Linked DNA regions of Homo sapiens. The protein of the gene in region 1 interacts with the protein of each later gene in a pairwise test. Each region holds a gene or a part of one and is shown on either strand. Other genes may lie near its edges. The genes, in order: SRMS and SKAP2.

Region 1 (3,697 bases):
CTGCCCCTCCTGACCTCCTGCACAGCCTGGCTTAGGCTGCCTCCTCAGGACACAGCTTGCATGGGCCCCCTCCACTAACCAACTGCCTGAGGCAGGTGGGCCGTGCCCAGCCAGGTGATGCCCATGGCCCTGTACAGCCACGACAGCCCAGCAGTGCTTCCGGGCAGCTCACCAGGCCGTCAGCTCCATGTCTGTGCAGGGGCTCAGCGAAGCCGAGTTTGGAGGCCTATGGCCCATGGCCAGGGCTGACTGTTAACCTGTGGCTGGGGCTGGCGGTCACTATGAACAGGGAACTGGAGGTCACGCCCAGCAGGGCTAACGGAGAGCCCACGGCCAACGTGAGGATGCTCAGGGCTGAGCAGGAGGATGAGGCCGGCACTGGGGGCTGAGGCAGTGCAGACCTTGAGCTGGGACTCAAAGTCCACGGGGTGGACCTTCTCCCTGAGGCGGTGGGACAGCCGGGCTCAGCCCTGCCGGCAACACGGAGGAGAGCATGTGGGGCCACTGGCTGAGGGGCCTGCAAGGTGACTGCCGCACCTGCTGTTTGCAGCTGGTACTTTAGCGGGGTCAGTCGGACCCAGGCACAGCAGCTGCTCCTCTCCCCACCCAACGAACCAGGGGCCTTCCTCATCCGGCCCAGCGAGAGCAGCCTCGGGGGCTACTCACTGTCAGGTACCTGGGGCGGCCCCTCCTGCCTCTGTCCCCCACCAGGTCAGTGGCCCTTGACCTTGGGGTGGTTGGTCTCTAGGCAGTGCTGGCTCCTGATTCACACCCGGCGCCACTGAGGGCCCAACAGCAGATATGCTGGTCACCTCCTGCACTTGCTAACTCACCCATTTATTCATTCATTCAGTCATTCACCCACTCATTCATTCAGTCACTCATTCACTTGTTCATTCATTCCTCACTAATTCACTCATTCATTCATTCATCCATTCATCTCATTCACTCGTTCATTCCTCACTCACTAATTCACTCATTCATTCATCCATTCATCCACTCATTCACTCGTTCATTCGTCACTCACTAATTCACTCATTTATTCACTGATTTGTTCACTAGCTTATTCTTTCACTCATTTGCTTATTCGTTCATTCATTCATTCACTTTTCCTTCTTTCCTTCCTTATTCCTTCATTCATTCACTGACTCATGGACTCATTCATTCTACAAGTATTTATTAAGTGCCTACTCTGTGCACACCGTCAGCAGAAAAGCTCCAACCTGGGCCGCTCTCGCTGCCCCGCCCCAGCCTGTGGCTGCCCACACTCCCTCCTCCACACAGCTCTGACCATCTCAGGGTCCCCAGCTAGGTCTGAGCCAGACCCCTTAGTGGGTTGTGGCCAGCATCCTCTGGGGTGGGAGGGTCGGGGCAGCTGGCAGCCAAGGCAGGGGTCTCCATCTCTGAACCCTTCCTAGTCCGGGCCCAGGCCAAGGTCTGCCACTACCGGGTCTCCATGGCAGCTGATGGCAGCCTCTACCTGCAGAAGGGACGGCTCTTTCCCGGCCTGGAGGAGCTGCTCACCTACTACAAGGCCAACTGGAAGCTGATCCAGAACCCCCTGCTGCAGCCCTGCATGCCCCAGGTGGGCCTGTGCCTGCCAAGCTGCCCCATGCTGGGCCCGAGGCATGGCCCTGTTCTAGGTGCTCCTCCCCACCCCGTCACAAAACCCCTGGGGCTGTCAGAGGCGCAGCTCCAGGGCCCTGCCCAGGCCTGGGAGCATCGGAGCATCCCAGCGGTTCCAGCACATTCTGCTCTCTGCGGGTGCCTCTGAGGGTTGTTGGGATTCCTGGGGTCCTAGGGGGCTGGGAGTGGGGAAAGGAGACCTGTAGCAGTGCCCAGCTCTGCAGGGGAGCAGCCAGGAGGGTGGGGCCAGTTTGGGGAAGGCACTCAAGGCTGCCCCAGGCCCCAAGGGCGGAAGGTGTGGGAGGAGAGGCAGATCACAAGATGCTGCACCTGGGCTGGAGACACTGGATCCCGGGGACTGTCCCCGATGTGAGCCACCCTGCCGAGGGCCAGGGCAGCAGTCTGGTTTCTCTGGTCTCATAATGACAGCGCGGCCAGGGGCAGTAATGAGCATGTGTAGACGGATATCCGGCTGGGGCAAAGGTGCCACTTAGGCCCCCAGAGCAATGAGCTCCCACGGGGCTGGGCCGGGCCTCCAAGCCTGGCACCCACTCCCCTTTGTCCCAGCCAGGGTGGGGTGAGTGTGTGCTGGGGACAGGGGTGCCCGCCAGAGGCCTGGTGTGGGGGGCTGTGCCTGGGACAGAGCACAGGGGCCCACGCTGACCAGCCTCCCTGCCCACCCTCCCTGCAGAAGGCCCCGAGGCAGGACGTGTGGGAGCGGCCACACTCCGAATTCGCCCTTGGGAGGAAGCTGGGTGAAGGCTACTTTGGGGAGGTGTGGGAAGGCCTGTGGCTGGGCTCCCTGCCCGTGGCGATCAAGGTCATCAAGTCAGGTGAGGCCCCGAGATCCTGCGCCACGGCCGGGCCCCGCACCTGCTGTCCAACCCTCAAGCCCCAGGGCAGTGATGTTCGTGGCGTGGGCCGGTCCTGGAGCCACACCCTCTCTCGCAGCCAACATGAAGCTCACTGACCTCGCCAAGGAGATCCAGACACTGAAGGGCCTGCGGCACGAGCGGCTCATCCGGCTGCACGCAGTGTGCTCGGGCGGGGAGCCTGTGTACATCGTCACGGAACTCATGCGCAAGGGGAACCTGCAGGCCTTCCTGGGCAGTGAGTCCCCTCCCTGCTGCCACGTGGCCCTGACGCGCCTGCGACCGCCCCTTCCCTCCTGGCGCAGAGCTGAACCTGCGGGGTTTCCGAGGTGAACCGGGCCTCTCTACCGGGAGCAGGTGGCCCCGGCTGCAGATCCCATCCCTGTCTGGTCTCCAGCCAACAGGGGGCTGGCGTCAGGTCTGGGCCAGGCCAGAGCCTTGTGGCTCCGGGGCTGGAGCTGGTGTTCGGGGGCGGTGGGGGGCGCGGTCCCATCTGGGTCACCAGCCTTGGTCTAATGTGACATAGACCCAGCCCAGCCTCTGGCTCTTCTCTGCCCTGGTCTTTGTCGGGGGCCTGGGCCGGCTGCCGGGTCACTGTGGTGAGTACAGGACCCTCGCCCTGTCTCACTTGGGGCTTCCCGTGGCCTTAGCCGGCCATGCCATCCTCGCCACGTCTTAGAGATGAGGAGGCTGAGGCATGGGGGAAGGTGACGTGGGTGGACGCTGGCCTCACCGGCCGTTGGCCCCGTGCCCTAAAAGACCCCGCGCTGTCTCCTGCAGCCCCCGAGGGCCGGGCCCTGCGTCTGCCGCCACTCCTGGGCTTTGCCTGCCAGGTGGCTGAGGGCATGAGCTACCTGGAGGAGCAGCGCGTTGTGCACCGGGACTTGGCCGCCCGGAACGTGCTCGTGGACGACGGCCTGGCCTGCAAGGTGGCTGACTTCGGCCTGGCCCGGCTGCTCAAGGTCAGCGGAGGCTCTGGGCCCCTGACCCAGAGGGGGTGGGTGAGGGGACCCCGGTCCACCTGCCCTACCAGGGGCCTTCCCTCGCCCCCAGGACGACATCTACTCCCCGAGCAGCAGCTCCAAGATCCCGGTCAAGTGGACAGCGCCTGAGGCGGCCAATTATCGTGTCTTCTCCCAGAAGTCAGACGTCTGGTCCTTCGGCGTCCTGCTGCACGAGGTTTTCACCTATGGCCAGTG
Region 2 (3,817 bases), on another chromosome or scaffold:
AAACCAAATATACCCTCAGATAATCAAAATAAACAGCTGAACTCTGCTAGAATGCTCAGAAAAATACATAATCAAGAAGGGTACTATGATAAGCATATCTGTGTTTAAAAACTATATAGTGGAAATATATTTTTTGCCCTTCAAAAATACTTAACATCAGTTAAACTGGAACATGAAAAATTTAACTCCATAATAATCGATTTCTTATTAAAATGTTAGTTACAAAACTGCTTCTATGTAAGAAATCAGTAAACAAAAGGTAAGTGACTTACATAGACTTTACATCTTTTATCTTCTTAATAAGGGATTCTCTCTTTTCCTTTGCTTTCTTGGATAAATTTTCTCCTTTCAGTATATCTGCTACAAATGTTTCAACATCTAAACCATGCAATATAAGAAACAGGATACAAATTATAAGAAATAAAGGTTTTGTGAAGATAAATAGGACAATGATTGTTTCTACATATAAGTGTTAATACCTGTACAATTTGTTATAGTTATTTATCATTCCAAAGCATAACAGTTGAAGTGTGTTTCAAATACTAAGTTGAACAAATCTGATCACCACTTAGCTAATAAAATTTGTAAGTTCTACTTATGCTTACCACAGCAAATACTATTTGGATGTTTGGCATCATTAAACAAGGAAGAAGCACACACCAAGTTTTAATAAACTATGGTGCCCCATAAAACAAATTCTTTATATGGAAGCAAGCACCAAGCTTTTAAGCATGTGTTAATATCATTTTCTAGTATTTTGTAAGTTCCTGTGTGAAAATGTCATTCATATTATTATGTCAATACAAGCTAATGTCTCTGGCAAGGGTCTGTTTTCCCTAGTATAATCAATTTTCAGGTATATCCAACATGTAATGCTTTAAAGGAAAAAGTAAATCCACTTTTCTAGCCAAGATTCCCAAATCAAGCCCTCCTTCTTCCTACCTACACACTCATTCTGACTACCCTCAAATAAAAAAGATAACCAGCTGTGTAGTTTTGTGAGCTCTTGCTTCTTGCCTTGGTATTACCACCTGAAATATTTCTTAAGGAAGAAGTACAAACATAAGTTCTTCCACTATATAAAAATATAGTCACCAAGAAACAAGATTTCTGTGGCTTCATGTAACATTCCCTCATAGCCTCTTTTTTTAATTTTAGTAAACTTCTAAATTACGGTGCTGTCTGGGTCTCTCTAGTGTAAAATTCCAACAAGTCCTTACAGGTTTAATTTTTATACTAGTTCCATTCTTATTATTCATGAAATACTGTGCAATTTTAATTTTATTTTCAGAATTTCACACCTCATTTTGAAATATCTAATATGGAGGATATCATTAAAGATGTTTAAGTAGGCATGGCTATAAATCATTGATTATTTCATATGGAAGGGATTTGTGTTTTACTTTCTTTTTCCTTAACTACTTTGTATAGCATCAAAACAATATTACGTATAAATAGTTCAAAGTAGTATAATAATCTAATAATCTTTCAACTGTACTTACAATTAACCATTTAAAACCTAGTATATGTGATAGAATGTTTGTAATTCTTGATTACAAAAGTATCTTGATCCAATGAGGAAAGCCAATTAAACTTTTATACATTCATAATAAATGTGTACAGGTAATTTTTCACTAAGTCAATATGACAAGTAAAATAATTAAGAATACTGTAATAATTTAAAAAAAATAGCTTATGGTTTGAAGTCTATTAACGACTAATGTGTTAAAAATTTAAGTATCAAAATGAAATGAAAGCAAATGTCACAGCTTCTCTTTCCTTGAGTTATATTAACAACTGATGTATTAAAAAATAAGTATCAAAATGAAATGAAAGCAAATGTCACAGCTTCCCTTTCCTTGAGTTATATTAACAACTAATGTGTTAAAAAAAAGTATGAAAATGAAATGAAAGCAAATGTCACAGCTTCTCTTTCTTTGAGTTATATTTTGATGTGGGGGACATAGAGACATAATCTAGTACCAGTGCAAATTAGACACAGACTTCTAAAGTGAATTCAAAATAACAAAACTTATGAAGAAGCATGTTGCTCTAAAAGCTTTAAATTTTGTGCCCAGAACAGCAAGCAACCTTTGGATATTTCGATATTAGCTGAAATGGAAAAGATCACTGGCTCCCCTGAGATCATTACAGTAACTTTTGCAAGAAAGTGGAATAAGGGAAGAAGCAACATCCCTACTGCTGATTCGTCTTCCAACCAGACTCAATAGGAAGAATCACTGGCCCAATGACTGGGGAATAGTCTGCTTAATGTTATTTTCACTCAATGTTTGCCTTTGATTTCCTCTTCCATGAGTATTTAATTGCCTATTTTATATTTTCATTATACAATCCAAGTTTAAACAAACAATCTATTTTCTATCACTGGAAGTAATAACAATGAATTGCCCCCAAGAGTTTTTTTCTTTAAAAGGTCATTTCAGTTTTATAAAAATTCAGAAAAAAAAAAAAAAGGCTGCAATAAACACTCTACATAGTGCCCTCTAACGCCCCCAAACATGTTTTTAAAATACTGATCCATGTTACTATTTTATGACAAAGTTTTTTTTGAAAGAGTGTGGGACTGTAGGAAGAATCGGTATTTTTCAAGGATGCCAGAAATTCAGAGATTGGGTATGGTCTTTTTTTTTTTTTTTTTAGAGTAGCCTTTTTTAATATACTTATTCCTAAGCTTTTCCCAGAAAAGGTTTAAAGCAACTAAAATTATTTAATAAACAGTGACTTTTTCGTGATTATTTCTCAAAGGTGATGTGGAGAGAGTAGAAACTGCTTTGCTTAAAAAAAAAAAAAAAAAAAAAAAAACTTTAAACTGGAAGCAGTTCCCGAAATAATTTTAGTTTGTTGACTGTCCACAACCAAACTTGGTTGGTTTTTAAGCTTTTGAAATCTAGGTTATTTCTTAAAATCTACACTTTACCCGTTTCTTTTAGAATCGAATGAAACCAGCCTCTTCCAGGCACAGGAGACTCCTAGACGTGCCGGTGGCGTTCGGCCGGTGTCTGAGCAACACACCGATCCTGATCTCGCAACGCAAAGACAGACCAAGCGCCGCAAAGAAGTTGTAGGGCTGCGAGATGCTCCAGCTCTGCCCTCTGAGAAACGCACTTCAGCGTTAAACCCCAGGGTTCCTCTCAGGCGGAGCAGTGAGCATGGAGAGCCGGGTCTGGGGCAGAGCCCTCACTAGACAAATGGGGCTGGATCTGTGGCTTTGTAGCTCAGAGCCAGGGTAATATTTCAAAAGCAAGCAATAAGAGTCTTGGGCGAATCAAGTGTTCCTCTGGCTGGTTGGAGAAGAGATTTGAAGCTTCTTATTGTGCTCTAAATAGCCCTGCAAACGGTAAACTAGCAAGCACAGTAAACTAGCAAGAGCGTTAGCCTTCTTCTACCTTCCTTTGAGGGTCGTGTTCCTCGGTTAATATGTAGATTTCACCATTCCTGAGTGCCCGTAATTCAGGGAAACGCAGTAATTTGATAACAAGAAAAGGTCAGCCTCCCTCGCTCGACCCTTAGCCCGGTTTTTAGAATTCTTCCTCGGAGGCAGGGGCTCAACTCACACTCTCACGCATACTGGCCACGGGAGAGAAGCGTGGGAGGCCCACTCTGCGCCCGCGGGAAAGGGTTTAACTACCAGGTCTAACTACCCCCACCCACCCCCATCTCCTGCCTCCGGGCCGGCAGCCAAATAGACTGCAGAGTCTACACTGCTTGCATTTAACCCCAGAATTACCCCTATCTCCATCAGCCTCCACCCCAGCCCAAGTCATCAGCAGGAAAAAGTTATCCTGGTGAAAGTAAA

Evidence for each region.
Region 2: the proteins of SRMS (region 1) and SKAP2 interact in a protein complementation assay, tested with the Homo sapiens proteins (one study listed by BioGRID).

The regions. Positions count from the first base shown.
Region 1 is NC_000020.11:63,541,202-63,544,898, reverse strand, and holds part of SRMS (tyrosine-protein kinase Srms), read left to right. Parts: intron 1-550; coding exon 551-672; intron 673-1,418; coding exon 1,419-1,585; intron 1,586-2,317; coding exon 2,318-2,459; intron 2,460-2,577; coding exon 2,578-2,736; intron 2,737-3,278; coding exon 3,279-3,460; intron 3,461-3,551; coding exon 3,552-3,697. UniProt on the Homo sapiens protein: Non-receptor tyrosine-protein kinase which phosphorylates DOK1 on tyrosine residues. Also phosphorylates KHDRBS1/SAM68 and VIM on tyrosine residues. Phosphorylation of KHDRBS1 is EGF-dependent. Phosphorylates OTUB1, promoting deubiquitination of RPTOR.
Region 2 is NC_000007.14:26,854,513-26,858,329, forward strand, and holds part of SKAP2 (src kinase-associated phosphoprotein 2), read right to left. Parts: intron 3,212-3,817; exon of another isoform or gene 2,939-3,211; intron 379-2,938; coding exon 273-378; intron 1-272. UniProt on the Homo sapiens protein: May be involved in B-cell and macrophage adhesion processes. In B-cells, may act by coupling the B-cell receptor (BCR) to integrin activation. May play a role in src signaling pathway.